4 separate regions of the Homo sapiens genome follow, and regions 1, 2 and 3 are each linked to region 4. The links come from fine-mapping of genetic effects on gene expression. A gene starts in region 4. Each other region holds a variant in brackets. All regions are shown on one strand. Distances are between the middles of the regions.

Region 1 (5,155 bases), 42 kb after region 4:
GATATAACACAAAATTAAAATTGTAAGCATTGCTAAAAATGACAGGCCCCTCCCAATATTTTTAGAAAGTTTTTTTAATTTTCATTTTTCTTCCCTTTATACCTTGATATACATTTTGATTGGTTCCTACTGTCACTTTTTCTGCCTTATGCATCTCTAAGCTTAGCTTTAGCTTGTTCATATTTAGGATCAAAAATGACTACTTTTGATTTATAAGTCTTCCTAGGTGAATCAGCCTTGATGATGGGTTAATTTTGTCCTTATTTCATTGAAAAACATTTTGTTCTACATTTTCTAGTGTGTGTGTGTTTACTAGAAGCCCAGCAAATCTAATTTTTTTCCCATTGAAAAGATTTTCCTGCCAAATGATTAGATTAGGTACAGTTCTATCAAAGACATTGTCAGTAGATTATGTTCAACTAGAATAGTCAATATCAATTTTTAGTTTGTCCTGAGGAATAGCAGGTATTGATTCTTCTATTTGGAATGACATTCCTTATCCTAGAAGGTCAGTTTCCTGAAGAGGAACTTGTATAAACCCTTCCCAAATGAACCTTGGAGTTGTCATTACTGTTGGAGTCCATTTCAAAGGGACATATTTCCTGGTTTTGAGCACGATCTTCTGTTTCTTCTGAAATACGTTTATCTTTTGAAGCAAATAGCTGACGTGGGAGGTAGTAACGTTCTTTTCTCATGTTGGATGATATCTTGGACTTACCTCACTTTGGGTTTTTCATTTCCCAAATCTCAAACTAACATTCCATTGTTGTCCAGCTAATTTTCAATAATATACAAGTGTCGGTGATTATTTAGCATAGCATATCTACAAAAAATTTGTCATTTACCAATTTCTGCCAAGTTTTTCTTCATTTCTTTTAGTCTTCAAGGCTAATCTGAAAGGGCTTTTTTAGGCATCTTTTCTTGGCCATTTTCTCTTTCGGCCACCACCTCTGCCACAGCCCTCCTTTATATTCCAAGGCTCTGCAAGCCTATTAGCATGGACCTGTGCCCCAAGACTATGGCATCATCTCCAGTCACCTATGACTTCTGCAAGGGTATTTAGAATTGTCTGCTGTAGTTGCCCACTGGCTGGCTGAGAGGTAGTCACATGAGAAGATCATGCTGCCAGCCAGTGCAGGCAGAGCCTAACTCAGCCAGTCAGTGTCCCATAACACCTTAAAATCACTTAACAAAAAAGTACCACAGACCAGTCACCTTGCCATATTCAGTTCCTAATATAATTTCTTTACAGCTTCTTTAACAAATTCAGTTATATTTGTTAAGTGCTTAAACAGGCTGTACATTTTGCTGAGTGATTGACATACAGAAGTGGACAAGAGATGTAAGAACTCTGACCTTAAAAATCCTGTATTTTACCAAATATTTTACCTAAGTAACTTTAAAGTAAGAACTGGCATCTCCTATAAGTTGCTCTGTCTGTCTCTCTCTCTCTCTCTCTCTCTCTCTCTCTCTCTCTCTCTCTCTCTCTCTCTCTATATATATATATATATATATATATATATATATACACACACACACACATATATATAAAATTATATATATATAATTTTATACAGAAAAAGATATATTTAACAGGAAATATGTTCATATTACCTAACATGATATGATTTTATAAAATTGGCATTTCTCCATGGAAAAAAAATGTCCAGATAATGGGATATTTGAAATATGAGCAGAGACAGCTTGAAAGCACCCAGCTTTGCAGTTTGGATGGGAGAAAAACTAGTCTGTAAAAGCAAAGAGAAAGAACAGAGGGAGACTATGGACTCCACAATTTGACCTTGGGCTAATTTGTTTATTACAGTTCTTAGAATATTGCTTTTGATCTTTCATCAGAAACTATGATATACTCCAGTTATTTAAATCTGACTCATGTCTACGTATTCATAAAGGTGATTAATTAGGCAGAACAGTGGTAGGAAATGATTTAATATGTTAATCTATATATTATTCTAATCTCAGCTGATGACAAGTTTTATTGTATGAAATTGAGATGAAATAAATTTATTAGTTTATCTTAATTTTTTTCATATATATACATAGAGAGAGGAAATAAAGTAAAAGTGCAAGGAAGAAAGAAAAAAATAAAAATGACCACCGTTTATCAGAAATGAATACTGATGACACTGAACTCTAAAGATATCTTGTTAATATGTGTACTATTATAATTACCATCTTATGGATTAAGAAGTTAATGCTTAAATGAGTTTAATATATGTGATGGTGCTCAGCTGGTACATAGAATGGATGCTATTTGAACCTGTCTGCTTAAGTTTAAAGCCCTGTTTTAGCCAATGTGAGAACTGCTCTTCTAAGTTACAATTTTTAATGAGTAATATATATCTACTTTATCTGTATTTTCTGATATTTAGATTGTTTCTTTTAATTATACAATGCAACAATAAAACATTGAACATTCCTGCCCATTGTTTACATAGAATAATGCCTAGAAATGAGATGACTCATACAACCGGCATTTTATAAGCTGTATTCCAGAAAATTTTTCACAATTTTTATATTTATAACCAAAAAGTAGAAAGAATGTTAAAATGGACCCACTATGTCCAATCAGCTATCTTCAATAGTGATCACCATTTTATTACTCTTGTTTCACCTATGTTGGTATTTATTTTGCTTACTGTAATATTTTAAAGAAAAATCCTGATATAATACCATATAATTTCACCAACAAGTGTTTCAGTGTATATCTCTGACAGATAAGAACCAAACTCTATAATGGGTTCTTGTCTCTTTCTTTCTTGCAATTTATTTGTTGAAGAAACAGGATCTTTTTTTCTAAAAAATATTCAATACCCTAAATTTGACTAATCCTTCACTGTAGTGTTCAACCTGTTCCTTTTTCCCTCCTTTTCTCCTGTGAACTGATGGTTAGATCTAAAAGCTCAATGAGATTCAAAATCAGTTTTTCTTTGGCAAGAATATTTTATCTATG[G/T]TGCTGTGTACCATGTCAGGAAGTATCATAATTGCATGACCATTTTCAGTGAGACAAGATTGGTCATTGGGTTCAGGCACATGTCCTTTAGTCTGTGTCTCCCACTTCCTTTTTCTCCCCTTAGCCTGAAATTGATGACTTCTTGTTGTTTTCTATGTCTATGATTACTAGTAATTTGATTTTTTAAACATGCTTATTGGCCTTTATAGTGTCTTTGTAAATAGCTTCTTTGTCTTTTGTTCATTATAATGTTTGCTGTTGTGGAAAAATAAATATTTTTGTTGTATTTTAATGTAATTAAATTAGTGATATATTTAATTTTTTACATAGGACATTTTTAAGAGAGAGCACTTTTAAAAATATGCTTAATGTAACAAGAAAACACATACAAGATTGGTAAGTATATTCATCTCCAGGGCAAAAATATTTCACAAACATAAGAAAAAAATACTTTTCTACACCAAATATTTTAACAAATATAATTTTCAATAATAAACATCTGCAGACTGAGAATTACATACCAACAGTCCTTGATTTCTTAATGAAATCTATTGTAGGAAAGACCATTGCTTTTCTTATTAAACACACTTAGGCAAAATGCAGCTTTATGATGACAAGATACAAACTAGATATAAATTTAATTAAAGTATTTTTATAAATATACATAGTATTTGCTAAATTGAATTCAACAAAAGGCAAGTAAACACATTGTGTTTTCATTCTCAAAACACTTTTGTCAACAGCTCTTTTAAACTTTAAGTTTCCCACTAATACTTTTGAAACTTTTGACCAATGATTTTAACTATAATTTATCAAAAGCTAAGTTAAAGTCACACCACTTTAATATACTTTATTTTCCCACCTTTATCTTTTTTTCATATATCGTCAATATTAAACCTTTGTTTTCCTAAGTATTATAAGTATTTTTCCTAGGTTGTCATTTGCCTTTTACCTTATTTACCTTATTTTGGTTTTATATAAATTTTTTTAATATGTGAGATAGTATAGGTCAGTACAATAAATTCTAATTCGTGTTCTATCAAGTTGTGTTTCATGAAGTGATAGTTGTATTCTGAAATGTTGCTACAGGAAATACTGAATTAGTGAGTACCGAGTCATTGCTCTTAGAGGAAATACAAGTTTAGTTTCCTGCAAGCCTTTAGCCACAACATGTTCATTAACTGATCAAAACCTAATCTTGTTTTATGTGTTTCTGTTTAAAGACACTTCACTTCATACATTTTGCTGATTAATTAATGTCGAACTCATGGCCAACAATGCTATAACTCATGCCTGAATCAAGCTTACCTAACACACACATTGTCTCCATAAGGCACATGGAACCCTTTTTGCTCTTAGCAACACTAGACAGTACTTCAGCACTATGTTTGATGGCTGTTTTCAACAGTGGAATCTCCAATAAAAAAAGCACAGGAAGCAACAATGTGGCACTAAAGATCTCAAAAAGGACATTTGTTTATAACATGATGACACAACAAAGCAAAGCATCACCTTAGCCAAACTCAGCTGGAAATGTGCACATCGAATGACTCAAATATTTTACCATTTTCTGCATGCACATGTCCACAAATGACCACGGAAGTGTCACAAGCATTGATTTTGAGGTACAAATTAATTCTTGCCAGTAGGAAGCTACATAAATTTGTAAGCTATGCATATTGAGGATCGACTGTAATTTCCTTCACGATTTTCCCTTTGCTTTTCTATGCCACCCACATTTAATGATGTCTTAGAATAATTCCTATGCTACCCTAATATCATTGACTTATATTGCATTAAAAGTGAATAAATGTATTTAAGCAAACTGAAATTAAAATAATATACCAAACCAGTGTTTTCTGCAATAAAATAGTATACTATATATTTTTCAGACTTAAGAATTAATGCTACTATATCAAAACTTGATCTGATATGAAATTTAAAAATCATCACTCATACTTTCTTGCAATCAATAATAATTATATTTTATATAACTTTCTATTTCATTTCGCTAGACTTAGTATCCCAATAACTTGAAAATACTTGAATGCTGATGAATTAAAGACAATTAGGTTACTGGACATTCTGCTGTATGCTTTAATATACTGGGTTTTATTACTAGAAAGTGGCTACAGCCTAGCGTGAATGTAAGAATAATAAAATATTCTTACATTCAATATA
Region 2 (5,155 bases), 26 kb before region 4:
TCTTTACATACATGATTATATTTAAGTGTAAACGCATACTTTTTTACTCCTCTGTCATAAAAATCATGCTCACTACAATATTTCCATTAGTCTAGCTTCAGGGAATGGAAAATGGAGGGAATATTTTCTCTGGAAGGAGTATTCTATGGATGAAAGGAAATCTGGTCAAATCCTGGGGAAGTGGAAATTTCGCCTCTTTGATTTCAGATAGATACTTGGAAGGACAAGAGATCCTGAAGAGGAGGAATTAAGCGACGGGATGTGTGTGGCCTGTTCTTTCATTTCCAGCCTAAAGTAGGGCTGTTTGCTATGTAGGTGAGGGGAAATTCAGGGGCAGAAAGGCCATTCTGTCATTGGTTTTAGTAGGGAGAACCTCCTGCAAAAGTATTCTGCATAACCAATGGCAACTATATTAATGTGTTTAAACAAAGTCAAGTCAGTGGCATCATGTGTTTGGACAGAGGCTAACAAGAGTTACCCGTCCAGTGTCAATTCCAGCTTGCCCTGTGGGTTTAGCAGGTGGCCAGAAGTTCCAAGTGGCCTTCGAGAGGCACGCAAAGCTGCTGGCTAGCAAGCTTACCCTACGAGTTGCTGTGACTGGGAAAAGTAACTCTGCAGTTGTAGATTAGGGTTCAGTTAAGGTACATCCAGACCTCAAGTGCTGGTGAGGACTAAGATAGGGTCGAGTTATCAGGGAAGACAACAGGCCCTGGCCAAACTCAGAAAAAACATCATATGCTCACCAGCTGCCAACTTGGATAGTAAATTTTAGCTGAAAGAGCAGTGACCAAGTAGACAAGAGAGTAATCGCTACAGAGTCCAAAAGGAACACCCATAGATACAGGGCTCTCTTTCTAAGACAAGAACACAGTAATCTGCTATAGAAATCCAAATGCCATTTGCGGGAAAAGCAGAAGTTTGCAGAACTGTGAAAAACTGAGCATGTACCTATAAGAATTTAAACTAATTTAAACTAAAAATTATTACCACTAGGTAGTTTGTAAATTTAAAATGATCTTTAAAAATAAAAAGCAACTCCCTAACTACCCAGAAAAGTGAGGGTGAATTAGAAATATTAGATTTGAAAATATTTTAAAAGTTCGCATTTTACACTTTACGTGATTGTGCTGAGTGCATTTAAAATGGCACCAAGAAATTCCCCAGATATAATTACAGCAAAACTCTTTCTTTCTTTCTTTGTTTTTAGCACCCATTAGCATGCAATAGAAGAGATATTCTGAGGAACTTACTTGATTACTCTCTGCTCTACAAATTTATTTTCATGATAATTTGCTTTCACAGTTTCTGAATTACTCAGGTTTCTCCAGAGAAATAGAACCAATAGGACAGAGAGAGCCAAGGGGTGTGTGGAGAATAGATATATGCCTGGCAAGTTCACATCTGATCCGAAATGTGGGCCAGTAGGCTTGAGACCCGGGAAACCTGATGGTGCAGGTGGAATCTGAAAGCAGTTTGCTCAAGAATTTTCTCTTCCTTGGGAAGGCTGGGTTTTTTGTCGTATTCAGGCTTTCAGTTGATTGGATGAGACCCACCCACCTTACAGAGAGCAATCTGGTTACCCTAAATTCACTGGTTTAAGTGTTAATATCATCCAATAACAGTTTTGCCCTCATCTTTCTGCCTTTTCATTTGCAACTTCGTCCACAGGTTCCTTTTCCCCTGCTAACTCTCGTTTACTGAGACATCTACTCTTGGTCCCCTGCTCCTTTCTCTCCACAGTCTTTTCACTATTTCATCTAGTCTCACAATTGTAATTGCCGTTTAGACACTAACAATGTAAATCCATCATACCTATGATGTCACCTTTAAGCTTCAGGTGCATATATTTATATTCTAGCAGTACCAATTCATTTGGCATGTCATAAACACAGATTCAACAGCTTCCAAATTAAACTCTCCAAATTTCCCTTTTCCCACTCCACTCCTTATTGCTACCTGCTAACATTCCGTCTATGCCTAATTCATCCCCTAGTCCTGCTGACATAATCTCAGCATTTTAAAGTTGTAACAACTTAGCTGGGCACACAAAGCTCTGAGTGACCTAAAACCCATTTTTTTCTAACTTCATTTTTTGAAATACTGAAGTCTGTACACATGTTTTGTCTCCATACCTTATTTCAGGGTTACTCTTTGGCCTAGAGCACTATCCCATCTCCTGTTTATTCACCTGGGTAACCTCTTTTCAACTCTGGATGTCGTTGCCTGAATCTGCAGACAGAATGACGTGTTTCCCTGTCTTCCTGTGTTCTACTCATTTCCCTCTGCTTGTCTAGCAGAGCACTGACATTAGAAGGCTCAAAATTCTACTCTCAGGGCTAGAATGACTCTAGCATGTTCCTGCTCCTTGAGAGCAGAAGCATTCTACATCTTTCTAGCCTTAGCACCTATCACAATGCCAAGGAGAGAAGGCGGTTACAAAGATTTTTTTTTTAACCTTTGCATTGAATGTACAGGTTAAATTGGCTGACTTTAAAAGGTTTCTGAAGAGCAGTAGTTCTCAGACGTTAAGACCCTTGAATGTCCTTAAGGTCTTTACAAGTAATGTGAAAAGCCAAAACTATTTTCATAATAATATCAAGACATTGTTTGCTTTATTCATTACATTGAAATTTTCACTAATGGTGCAAGAGCAATGGTCAGAAAAATTGCTGGCTTTAAGGCAAGAATCAAGGTGGTGGCCCTGAGCTATACTGTTAGCCATTGCATTTTACCACACACTTTCATTTTAAAAATAAAATTACATAATAGTCATACTAATAATAATAGAATATCAGTTTCACTTAAGAATGGTTTTGATGAAAAAATAAAAATTATTAATTTTATTAAATGTCAACCTTTGAATATACTTCTTTTCAATGTATCCTGTGGGAGAAAAATGAGAAAAATGCCAAAACACTTCACTACATAACCAAACGTATTTGTATCAAGAAAAGCACTTATGTGATTGTGTAAATTGCAAGCTGAAATAATCTCTTTTCATAGAGCACCATTTTAATTTGAAAGAATGACAAATAGGCAAACTATAGCTATTCATACTTGGATATTTGGCACACATTTTCTCAAAAATGAACAAAGACAGCCTGACAT[C/T]TCAAGGACAACTGACAGTATTGTTGCCAGTAATAAAATTTGAACTTTCAAGTGAAAGAGTTTTGGAAAACTTACATCTGCTTCTGTGAGCTTGACAGCTTCCCAAGACAGACTTTCCTGATGAGATCAGTGGCAATATTAATAAATATGATGTTTATTGCATAATGAAATATGTCAACATTGGAAGATCTGTATAAATGAGTAAACTAATATTTTTAAATGAACATGCATGACAGTACAAAATTATACATGAATAAAAGATTCATTCAAAATTCAAGAGAAGCCAATGGATTTTGTTGTAACAGAATACAGAAAATCCAGTGATATGGTTTGATTGTATATTGCAACTACCTCTTATAAAGTACCACATGTCAAGTTTTAGAGTACTATCAAGGAAGAACATACAAAATTATCTTAAAATATTCATTCTTTGCCCAGCATGGTGGCTCATGCTTGTATTCCCAGCACTTTGGGAGGCCGAGGTGGGCAGATCACTTGAGGTCAGGAGATTGATACCAGCCTGACCAACATGGTGAAACCCCTTTTCTACTAAATATACAAAAACTAGCGGGGCGTGGTGGTGCATACCTGTAGTCCCAGCTACTCAGGAGGCTGAGGCAGGAGAATTGCTTGAACCCGGGAGGAGGAGATTGCAGTGAGCCGAGATCGTGCCATTGCACTCCAGCCTGGGCAACAAGAGCAAAACTCCGTCTCAAAAAAAAAAAAAAACTAAAACAAAACAAACAAACAAAAAAACTCATTCTTTTTCTATTCACATATTTATGTAATGACTTTGTTTATACACTTCAACCAAAAAATATACAGCATGGATATAACAGATAAAATAACCTAGCTGTCTTCTATTAAGTTAGACATTAAAGAGATTTACAATAATATAAAGCAGTGCCCCTCTTTTTAATGAATTTTAAAATTTGAAATATATCATTATTTTTAACAAAAATATACTATTTATGTTAACATGTAACAGGCTTATTAATGTTATTTGAAATGAATTAACAATTTAAATTTGTTTCCAGTTTTAATTTCTAATATGGTAAATAAAGACAGGTATAACACATATTTTTAAATCTCTTTATGATCCTGAATGGTTTTTAAGAGTGTAAAGGGGCCTTGAGGCTGGGTGCAGTGACTCACTCCTATAATCCCAGCACTTAGGGAGGCCAAGAAGAAAGGACAGCTTGAGCCCAGAAGCCTTGGCAACATATAGAGACACTACATCTACAAAAAAAATAAAATAGAAAAATTAGCTGAGGGTAGTGACTCATGCCTGTAGTGCCAGCTACTCAGGAGGCTGAGGCAGGAGGATCACTTAAGCCCAGGAGATTGAGGCTGCAATGAGCTGTGATCATGCCACTGCACTCCAGTCTGGGTGACAGGGTGAGACCCTGTCTCAAAAAATAGAAATAAATAAATAAAGGTAATCTTGAGATCAAAATGTTTACAACCACTGCTATGGTAGTATTTACCTTAAGCTGTGAACAACTGACATAGATGTATTTTTAACAATACCACTGATTCCTAAATTGGTTACATTACTTAAATATTTATTTAAAAATATATTTAAAGTAATTTATTCTGTATGTTTTGATATTCAATTAGACCACTGGTTAGAGAGGTGTATGGACCACTGGTTAGAAAGGTGTATGCAGACCAATCTTCAAATCCTGGCTCCATGACTTAGATGCATTAGGAGTAAGGAAGGAGAGAAAAAATGGATGTCTGTTAGAGGTGATTGAGAGAGCGTATCACTGTTTCCAATTATTGTGAGAGGATTTGATTTTGCTTATGGGATAATTTGACTTTCCTGCAGTCATGACATCAGGAATGGCCATGAAATTTGCTTTACCCAATGAAATGTGAGTTGAAGTGATATATGCCAATTCATCATGAGGTTCTGACGTTTTCTTTTTCCCTCTCCCACAAAGGCCCCCAAGTCTCATACAGGGCTACTCCTTCAACCTGGGTTCCAGAAGGAAGAAGACATGGAGCAAAACTGTATGGACAATGTAATGTGAACAAGAAATAA
Region 3 (5,155 bases), 71 kb after region 4:
CTCCCCCGCACACAGAGTTTATATAAGGTGGGTTAACTAAACACCTAGATTCAGTGCGGGGATTTAGGGTGGCATTTGTTTCATTTTGAGGAGGTAGGTTTTAAACTACTGAATAAATGTCTTTAATAGCTCTAAATAAATTTAGGTGGTTTTCTAATTCTTCTTTGAGTTTGTTTCACGTCAATGTCTCACACTGTTTTTATATTTTCCATAAAAAGTATTATTGTCTTTACATATTCATATTAAAAATAATTTTGTCCTAAGTCTTGGGGTTAATTCTACATAAATATTTGAGCATTGCAGAGTTGGAAAAAAGAGTAGCAATACAAGACTGCTAGTTAGAAGACCTGATCTCTTATCACATCCCACAACCCACTTATCACAACTAAACATGGAGGCTTTGGCAAGATATTTAATCTTACCAGTTCTATTTCTACCTAAAATTTTGGAAAATTGACTGGATTTTTGGGGAATTAAATGAGGTAATTTATTTAAAAGTCAAATAGTATTCCTCAGGGTTATGAAATACACGTTAATCTTCTTTTCCTTTCTTTTCTTTCATGACTATTTGTAAGCATCTATTCTGTTAAATAGCTTTACCTTATGTAATCCATCTCCCTGTAACTAATATATTTTACTTAATTACACAGAATCATTTTAATATGTCAACTGTTGATTTTCTAAAGGACAAAGAATGTTTTTTAAAGATAAGCAGAGACTTGATGAAGCAAAGCTGAATTTCTTAAGCCTAGTGCAGTAAAAGAAAATGCCACCTTGAGATAATCTTAGTATTAGTCCAGAATAGAAAGGTGACACATTTTTAGGGTTTAAGAGCCTCGCCTGAGATTTTAAGGCCAGTTTTGCAAAGAGAGAGAAAGGGTGGGATTGGAGGGCACAATGAAGTGAGTCTTGATGAGCAATATGTTAGTGTCAAGAAAAGAAATTTTGGGTTAGTTTACAGAATTATCTTTCAGAAGCAAATATTTCTTAGAGAATAGCCAAGTTTATTTTGTTTGTTCTCAATTTTAATATAAAGATGGGAAAGTATGCACTGTCTCAATGTTGCTTAATTTAAATACAAGAAAGTAATCCAGCTCTCAGTAGCGTTTAACACTATGTCAAAAATTATATTCATTTTAGTACTAAATATTAATCATTCATTTGGTCATTTCTAACCCTGTGCCTGAATACAGACTATTATTGTCTGGGAATAATTAATTCAGATCTGTACTTCTGTTTGATACGTCATGATCAAGTGTAGAATTTCTGATGGTAGTCATTCCAGTTTCTGAAAGTGGCATATATTCTTGTTCTTTTCATTAGAAAATCATTTGTTGCATTTTTAATGAGACAGAACAGTGACTGTGGAGCAGCACTTAAAACTGGAGATCACAATTTGATTCCTATAATGGATGAAATAGAGGATTAGTATCCTTGGAGTTTGTAGTCTGCTTGCAAGTTAAGAACCGAGAGTATATCAATTAAGCCAAGAGCACTCACCCCTAATCTGAAGAATCTGTAGAACCAGATATGGGTACATTAAATAAATTATCTAATTTTACTATTTCTTTGTTTTATGAAATTATTTTTGTTTTTTGGAACCATAGAGATCTGTTCAAATGAAAGTACAATGTTCTCCACCTAAGACAACACATATTCCACTTCAAGATTATTATTATATTTAAAGCAACTCTGTTTTGAATCACCACTTGACGAATTTTATGAACCTCTTGGGTGAGTTCTATGGTGTATTGTCTTGTTATCCTCCTAGTCTTTGCACTGTACTTTGTTATAGCAGGTAGCCATCTGCCCAATTTTCAGACCTCCAGTATAAAGAGTGAAACAAAGTGTGAACAAAGAGGCTTGGGCTGAAAAATTTAATCTAATCCAAAACTCCTTTTAGTATCTAAGTTTTTTAACTCAAACTGAAACCCAGTTTTCTCTTTCTAAAATTTTCTATTTTTTTGTCAAAGGAGGAAAACTGATGGTCCAAACAGGATTCTGGATAATATCAAAGACTAATTTAATGACAGGTATCAGTTTATTAAGTAACAGATCCTGTCTAAATTATAGGTAGTAACCAATGGGCTTTTGTGTCCCAAATTTAGTAAGAGTTATTAAAGGCTACCCAATGATCTGTTTCAGCCACAATAACCAAATGGTGTTTTTGTATTGTATTGTTCTGTCATGACTCATCAAGAATTATCATGCATTAGATAATGAAACTTTTAGTATATAGATCATTAGTTACCCCTAAAGCAAAAATGTAGAGATGAGCCTAAGTGGTATGGTTTTCTAATCACTTCTGTAAAAGTGAAACATCAGCCTCACAATTATACACCAGTACTTCTCTAGCTTTTCTGCAAACTCTATTTTTGTGAAAATTTTACTACCCAAACAAGCTCTATGAAAGGACTCTGAATGTTGATTCTGTGAAGACAGGAGCCTTCCTGTATAAGGACATCTTTAAAGGGGTTTTAGATTTCTGGCTCTCTGGCCCATGGCATTGTTTGCCCTCAATTAATGCTTTAGGAGTTAGATCAAATATCCAGGAAACCAAGTCACTTACTTTTATAAACTGGTATCAAAGGAAGCTGAGTAGAAACAAACTCAATGGCTAGATTGCTTATATATTTTAGCTAAATCATAAGAAATTAAATTCCTGCCAGGATTTGAATTATATCAATACCTACAAATGCAAAAACCAATATTAAGGATAGAAACTTTCAAGAATCATAGTTACCAGCTAAAAAAAAAATCGGTTAATAATCCACAACTTTAAAACAGGAAAGAGGAAAGAAAATAGCTGGGAAAATAAAAACGTGCAGTTTGAACCATAACTGTCTGTGACTCTAGATATCTGGTTCTTGTTCTGTTGGCATTAGGTGCAAGATATTTACTCCTTGCCATTGTCTACTTGATCTGAGGGTCTTTGGCAAAAACTTTATCATACTCTCAAAGTTTGTCCACTTCTGGAGGATTCCTAAATGTCTTCAGCTTGAAGTCTCCAGAAGGATACAGGTCTGAGGAAAAACATTCTAGCATTTTACTGTTGTTAGTTTTTAACGGTACCAGATAACATCCATTTCACTGTCTTAAGGGAGATTTTTTTTCTGATGTCTTTTCCACAAGATGAAATCTCTCAGAATGTTATAATGGTAGAAATTGAAATCCTCTATTTACATATAACACACAATTAATTCTTGA[G/A]GATGTAATCCATGATTGTCCTGGGAGGAAGAACATGTTATAAACAGTGTAAACTTTTTGACTTGTGTAATAGATACTTTTTGACTTGTATAATAGTGAGCACTATGATTGTTCCTGATTAGTAAGAATAATGAATTAATAACTCAGGAACAAAGTCACTTTTTAGACTCATTATGCATTGTTCTTTTTAGAGAACACAAGGGTGTTTCTGAGAAATACACAATCATTAAACATAGATATTTTAATTTATTATGTTAATATAAATAAATATTTTGTTATATTTATTTTATTTAATATAGGAGGACTGAATTTCTCTTTTGTCATTTTTTTTTAATTCTAACTTTGGTAAATAAAGTACCTGTAATTTTGAGTTAATTAAAATTTGAGAAATGAATCACAAATAGTTCCATTGTCTTTTCACTTGTAATATGGAGGAGCAAAGGTAATTCAGGTTTAAATGAAATCTTAAAAGTTTTATTATTTTTAGTTGCTACTTGAATTTGGAAAAGAAAAAATCAATAAAGGTTGTTAATGCAGTAAAATACTAACATAAGTCATAATATCTACAAAGTCATTATTGGCAATATTTCATAAACACAATTAAGATATTTATTAGGAAATTACCTTTCAAAAATAATGAAATTTTCTTTCAAAATGATTCAGGAAACAAAAAAGTTCAGAGGGTCAATAAAATATTTTTGGTGATACAAGGAAATTCTTTTACCTGGATAGAGAACTTGGACATTTTATGACAAGACATCCCAGATTCTGAATTTATTCCTTTATTTTTTCCATGTAACAAGTTATAGTAATATTTTATAACTTTTTACATTAGGAATAAATTCACTCACTCTGGAACAACAGTACTCAAAACAATTTTGAAGACAATGCATATATTTATTCCACTTACATATTTCTCATACATTTCATATATTTATTCATTCTCCATCAGCACTAGAAACCTAGACAAACTGAAATTACCTATCTCAGACCTTTTACATGGGCAGTACTTTAAGTTTGTCTTCTATTTTCTTTTTATTATAAATCTTTCAATTAATCCTTAATACTCTGTTTATTTATTTAGACATATACAAATATATATGAGTAGAGGGAAATAAAGGGTAAAATGAAAACTCTAAACATTAGCTTTAAGAAATAAATTAATCAGCATTCATATATATATTACTAAATTTATCATATTAATAACCTTTACAGCTTATTAAAATTACAAGCTACTTATAATTTGTATGCATATTTTTATTCCTATGGAAGCATTATAGCTAGCATTATCTCAATTTTTTATATTAATTACCACCTTTAACCAAAATAATCAACTTGCTTTTCGGGCAAAAGAGAACTAGAAGCTGAAAAATTAATAATTTTGTAGCTATATTTTCTATAAGCACACTTTTTTTTTAGAACTTAAACAAATTTTAAAATATATAATCATCAAGACATTTGTACATAGCATTGCTTGATAGCCAGTCTACATATAAAAATTTTAAAAGTTAATTTAAAACTGTATGGTGACATATGCCTGTATCTTTTCCTTAAAATTATTCAAGTAGTCAAATATCATTTATTAGTTACCTCGTTTTAATAATAGTAAAAAGTTTTAAGTTGAATAAAGATCTGGAAGTTATAATTTAAGCTAGCTGTTAGAGCTTCATGGTTGGTAGCATGGTAGCATTAAAATAATTCATAACAGTAAACCATTTAACTGATGCTTAATATTATTTCATGTGGTTGAATACAATTTTAGGTTTTTGTAATTTGAAAACCTTTGAGGAAGCAATAATAGTTTACAAGGCCTATTGCTATTATGATAATTTTATAAAGTTTAAATCATGAAATGTTATAACTAAATTTTCTTTTAATAAAAATACTATGCTAATGCTATTTTTACATGGGTACCATATCAGAGAGAAAAATGTAGTCATTTTACATT
Region 4 (5,155 bases):
GTGTTTTTAAACAGAATAATTTTTGTCAAATATTTTGATACAAAACAATGAAGCCTGAAGTTAAAATAAGAAATTCTGGGCTCAAGTGCAGGGCAACTGGACACCCTTATGAGATGAGCCTTTGTGCCCTTCCTGTAAGTGTGGATTAGATTATCCACCACCTAGATTTAAGAAAGGATTAAATGAAAGAATATATGTGAAAGTACTGTGTTGACTGTATTAAAAAGAACTGGAAACCCATAAAGGACCGCTATAATTGTGTAATTGTTGCGCCAGGTTATTTTGTCAATACATTTTTAATCAGCACCTAAAATATTTCATGTCACTTCATCCAGCAGAGACATTGAGATGTGGCAAAATGTTTAAAAGGACAACACTATAGGTGAAAAAAAAACAGAGCACAACAGTAGTCAATTCAAAAAAAATTCTTTTAACAATTTTATTCCATTTCCTTGCCATTTTCAGAGCCCTTTCTTTTGGTGTTTTGTAACAATATAAAAAACGATCTGGCTTTTCAAAATATACTCCTTTTCCTTTCTATATGCAAATGATATGAAACACTGGCAAGTTGTCCTTAAAAGTCAGCCCACCTTCATGGCCCAGATAAAGTGGGCAATAATTCCTCTCTAGGTCCTCCGCACATTAGGTGCCAGTCTCTCAAGTCTCTTCCTAGACAATTTCTAGCAGCCAGGAAACATAATTTTTGACCTTGAAGACTTTAGCATTCCAAATCTAAGAATACAATCAGGTGTGTTTTCTTTTGGCAAACTGTGAGCTTACACACACCCCCAGAGTGGCATTTGAATGCTGTGCACAGTCTTGACTGTGTTCGAGGTTAGAGAACTAAAGACAAGATTCTTTCTCTCTTGTAATGAAGAAACAAAAACCACATAGCCTATATTCCACAAAAGAATACCAGCATAATATATCCTTTTTTAAAGATGTAATTCATTAGATGTGTGTAGAGAATAAAAGTGTAAATATAGGCTGGGAACGGTGGCTCACGTCTATAATCCCAGCATTTTGGGAGGCCGAGACAGGTGGATCACCTGAGGTCAGGAATTCGAGACCAGCCTGGGCAACATGGTGAAACCCCCGTCTCTACTAAAAATACAAAAAAAATCATCCGGGCGTGGTGGCACGCGCCTGTAATCCCAGCTACTCGGGAGGCTGAGGCAGGAAGATCGCTTGAACCGGGGAGGAAGAGGTTGCAGTGAGCCGAGATCGCGCCATTGTACTCCAGCCTGGTCAACAAGAGCGAAACTCCGTTTCAAAAAAAAAAAAAAAAAGTGTAAATATAGTACTAGCTTCATTGATATGTCTTGCTGCTTCTGGGACTTTAGAGAAGCGTATAAGAAGAAAGTGTGTGTGCCTTTACGTAAGGGAGCATATGAGAGAGAGAGAGAGAGTGTGTGTGTGTGTGTGTGTGTGTGTGTGTGTGTGTGTGTGTGTCAGAGAGAATGTTCATGGCAGGAGGAGGGGCGGTGAATATATGAAGGGAAGTTGGGAAAACCCTTCCCTTTTTGTGCACTCCCAGGGCAGCAGCCGCAACCCCAGAATGAGGAGAGGACTTAAGAGCAGGCACAAGGTTCGCTGCCATGACTGATGTGAAGCGACCTGACGCACAAGCGGAGACTTTTCTCCTTGGCAGCCAACAACCTGCAGCAGGCAAGGCGGGCGGGGGAGGAAACCCCGAGGAGGCGCTCCCGGCCGCCTCTTTGCTGAGATAGCAGGAGCAGCAGCCTGAGGAGCCACGAGCTCAGCGTCACTGAGCTAGTGCGGGTGCAGGGGCGCTCAGGCAGGCGCACAGGCCGGGAGCCGCTTCTGCCGCTCAGGCGGCCGCGCTGCAGAAAGCCGCGCCGCGCTGCCCGAGCGCCCGGGGCTGGCCCGCGAGCGGGAGGAGCCGGCAGCCGCGCTCCGCCCCGCGCTGAGATTCGTGCCACCTGCCTCGAACACCACGGAGGCGAGAGGAACCCAGAGAGCTCGGCCTCTCGTCCCGTTCTCGAAAAGCAGCCTATCGTGACGGAGCCGGGAGAAGGCTAGCGTTTCAATCCTGTGCAGGACTGGGATTTTTCTTCTCATAATTTGGGGGAGCCGGAGTAGAGGTCAGAGGGACAGGCGAGGATCTCAAAAAGAGACCGAGGGTTGTGAACATGGTTACCCCCTCCTATCATTGGAAAATCTCCTTGACATTTTTCACACTTTGAAGCAGCTGCAGCTGGTGTCGTCGGAAAAGGGGGTGGGAAAAAAGAGAGGGGGCGGGGAGAGCGGTGAGACACAGCCAAGAGCCATGAGCGGCGCCTCCTCGCCTGCCAATCCTGGCACCTGTGCGCCGAGCCACTGCACCGAGGAGGACCCTACTCCGGGTGAACACCGGGCTTGAAGCCACGGACACCCAGCCCCAGTGCAGCGGGTTCTCGCCGGCGGGACCTGCAGCCGCCCACTCGGGCCACCGCCACCGCCTCCTGCAGTTGCGGAGCGCTCAGCCCCTCCGAGACGCCCGCTGCGCCCTGGCCCCTGGGGATCCTCGCCCTGCACAGGCGCGGCAACGGGCAGGGGTTGTTACGGAGTTGGGTGCAGGATTCGCCTTTCCTGCTTGTCTCTTCTCCGCCCAGGATTTATTGTCTGTGGAGCCTTCTGGGGGCGGGGAGGGAGCTGCGCCTCCGCCACCGCCGCCGCCGCCGCCGCTGCTGCTGCGGTCGCTAGCGCGGCGCGCTGGGCAGGCTGAGGCTGGGGAGTGGACGCGCTCCTGCCTCCCCCGCCGGCGCTTCGGGCTTCCCCTCAGCCGCTTCCCGCGGGAACCTCTCCAGCCGTCCACCTGAAGGGCACTGGCATCATGGTCTAACGTGGCACCTTCCTGGATTCCCCTCTATCTCCTGTTCTTCCTACCTTCTACTCCTTCCCTCCTCTTCTCCTCCGAAGACCCTGGCGCCCACTCCACTGCGGACCCCTGAACACTTAAGGAATAACCCTTGGCAGCTGCACGACTACGCTCTCCGAAACCTCATGGGCAGTTTCTCCCGCCGGCGATGTGAGTAAGGCACGCTCGCTCCGTGGCGGAGGGTGCTGCGGGGGCCCGGCCGCGGCGACCGTAGGCGCGCGAGGTGTGGGACCCCAGAGGCCGGCCGGGGGCGGGGGTGGCAGGGCGGGAGGCTTCGGCGCTCGCGGGGAGCTGCTTGTGCGGTGGCCGAGGGAGGCGGCGAAGATGTGGTAGGTTGCAGAGCATTTGGAAATGGGGTGCTAACTGGGCGGGTGCATGGGAGCACCGAGTAGCTTGAGCTGGCAAGAGACCTTAAAGGGTTACATACTGCGAAAAGGAAAGGTAAATGTTGGGCGCTGGTGCTGGGACCATTGGTTCCGCTGAAATTAGGTTTAGCTCCTCGTTATTATCTTGGGTATCTCCAGTCAGCTTTTTTCCCAGAGGTGTCTGAGGGATGAAGCGCGTGTTTGATCGTGACACACACACACACACACTCACACACACTTGTGGCAGGACGCACTTGTCTCTTTATCTTGGAAGGTGTTGTATCAATGTCTCGATGTCTGTTTGAAAAAATACAATTAGAAGATTTTTATGTGATTGGGATTGAAGGGAAAGGGTGGGGTTTGGGGGGATGGAGGGGACGAAGGAACATGAAAGACTGGAGGACGGAAAGAAGTGGGGGAGCGTGTTCCCTGGGAGTCAGGGAGAACCTTGCCTCCCTCCCTGTCAGCTAGACAACTCCTGCCCACACATCTCCTTTGTGTGGCACGAGAAGCTGGTGAACCTGCCTATTCCCAATCCAGCGCTGGGTCCCCTTGAGGATCTTGCGTCCTCCTCTCCGAGTTATTAAGGATGCAGGACGTGTTTCGGATTCGACGTGGAAAGAGGGAGGGAAGCACATTAGCATTAAGGTAATCATGGCACCCTGGCTCGTGGACTATTAGATTGGCTACCAGTGGTCTCTAATCTTACTGTTTGCAGAGTCAAGAATGGGGGCGGGGGTTGGGGGACTGTATAGATTGCCTTTTAAAATAGTGTGACTTCATAATAACGGAGATGGCTGAAAGATTGCTTCCTTACACTACTTCTCGGCCATCAGGGCTGAATAAAGGACCCGCCTCCGCCCTCTACTCCGGCTCTTCTCTGGCTGTCTCTTCCCCATCAAGTCATAAAGCGAGCGGGTTGGGCGAGAGGGCACAGCTCGAGGCAGAGAAGAGACGGGGTCACTTTCACAACTCCCAGGAATCGGCTTCAGAAAGGAACCATCTGCGACTCCCACGTTCCTTTCGAAGTTCTCCTTCAAAAGGAATTACAAAAAAAAAAAAAAAAAAAAAAGCGATGGGGGTGGGGATCGGTAAGACACAGGGGTCCTCCCCCTGCTCTTTTCAATTACTTTCCCAATACTCTTTCAACACATCGAATTTACCTGCAGTGGTAACTGGGTCAGCAGGTAAATAGATTTGTATCTGTATATGTCGAAATGTGGCTCTCCTGGTGGATGAAAAGCAATTTTTTGTGAGCATATTCTAACCTAGGCGAAATTTCTAAGCACAATAGAGATTTTTATAGCGTGGGCGAGAAGAGTGCATTCCAGCGAAAGCAGGACACGTGATCCCTCCAACGGGTGAGATACAGTATTAGGAACTCGATTTTCTTTGTTCCAGCCTGAGCCTATGAGATGTTCAGCATCCTGGTTGCTTAAGTCCTCCTATAGAAGGAAAATAATAATAATAATAATAATAAAGTTGATCGGAGGCGAAATAGAGGGAAAATAAGCACAGGTAGACATGCGTGAACGGTTTGAAAGCTTCGCCTCTGCCTTTTTTTACCGCCCACCCTTCACCCCCACCCCTTGCTCCAGCCAGCCCCCTATTTTAAAATGAGGCATTTCCTCTGGGAGACGGTGGAAAAGTTCTCCAGCCCCTGCACACGTGGGTTCTCCAGCACTTCAGAACCTGCTGTGATTCGCAACAGATTACACCACCTTCCCAGTCCAAGTGTCACGCCTCCGTCCAGGCTTCCTTGAATTGGCTTCCAGGAAGGACTCTAAGGGAACTACCACGAGGTGTTTTTTGTTTGTTTGTTGTTTTTTGTTTGTTTGTTTTTACAAAAGACAGTAAAGCAATGAAGTCTTTACTTTTTAGAAATCATTGATTGCACAGGGGGAAAAAT

Which allele goes with the higher level. Alleles are on the strand shown, and positions count from the first base shown. SD is a standard deviation of normalised expression in the study named.
For the expression in thyroid of the gene that starts at base 2,312 in region 4, T is the high allele of the variant in region 1 and G is the other (moderate effect, 0.73 SD a copy in GTEx).
With allele C in place of T in region 2, the expression in tibial nerve of the gene that starts at base 2,312 in region 4 is lower (moderate effect, 0.47 SD a copy in GTEx).
In carriers of allele A in region 3, the expression in sigmoid colon of the gene that starts at base 2,312 in region 4 tends to be lower than with G alone (moderate effect, 0.43 SD a copy in GTEx).

Evidence for each region. PIP is the estimated chance that this variant, and not a neighbour inherited with it, causes the effect.
Region 1: its variant is the best candidate, but not a certain one, in a credible set for the expression of LRRC7 in thyroid (GTEx, PIP 0.59).
Region 2: its variant is the best candidate, but not a certain one, in a credible set for the expression of LRRC7 in tibial nerve (GTEx, PIP 0.53).
Region 3: its variant is the best candidate, but not a certain one, in a credible set for the expression of LRRC7 in sigmoid colon (GTEx, PIP 0.71).

The regions. Positions count from the first base shown.
Region 1 is chr1:69,607,373-69,612,527 of GRCh38, forward strand. All of the region lies in intron 1 of LRRC7 (leucine rich repeat containing 7), which reads left to right. It also overlaps the pseudogene SGO1P1. Among named protein-coding and RNA genes, the nearest start is that of LRRC7, 42 kb to the left of the region's middle. The variant G/T (reference allele first, on the strand shown) is at 2,975.
Region 2 is chr1:69,539,587-69,544,741 of GRCh38, forward strand. LOC105378789 (a long non-coding RNA gene) reads left to right here. Exons shown (of 12, transcript XR_947488.3): 4 at 5,055-5,155. Among named protein-coding and RNA genes, the nearest start is that of LRRC7, 26 kb to the right of the region's middle. The variant C/T (reference allele first, on the strand shown) is at 3,109.
Region 3 is chr1:69,637,110-69,642,264 of GRCh38, forward strand. All of the region lies in intron 1 of LRRC7 (leucine rich repeat containing 7), which reads left to right. Among named protein-coding and RNA genes, the nearest start is that of LRRC7, 72 kb to the left of the region's middle. The variant G/A (reference allele first, on the strand shown) is at 3,208.
Region 4 is chr1:69,565,611-69,570,765 of GRCh38, forward strand. LRRC7 (leucine rich repeat containing 7) reads left to right here and starts at 2,312. Exons shown (of 27, transcript NM_001370785.2): 1 at 2,312-3,031. The coding sequence starts at 3,030. It overlaps LOC105378789 (a long non-coding RNA gene), which reads left to right. Exons shown (of 12, transcript XR_947488.3): 12 at 1-240. RefSeq lists a silencer at 1,736-1,965.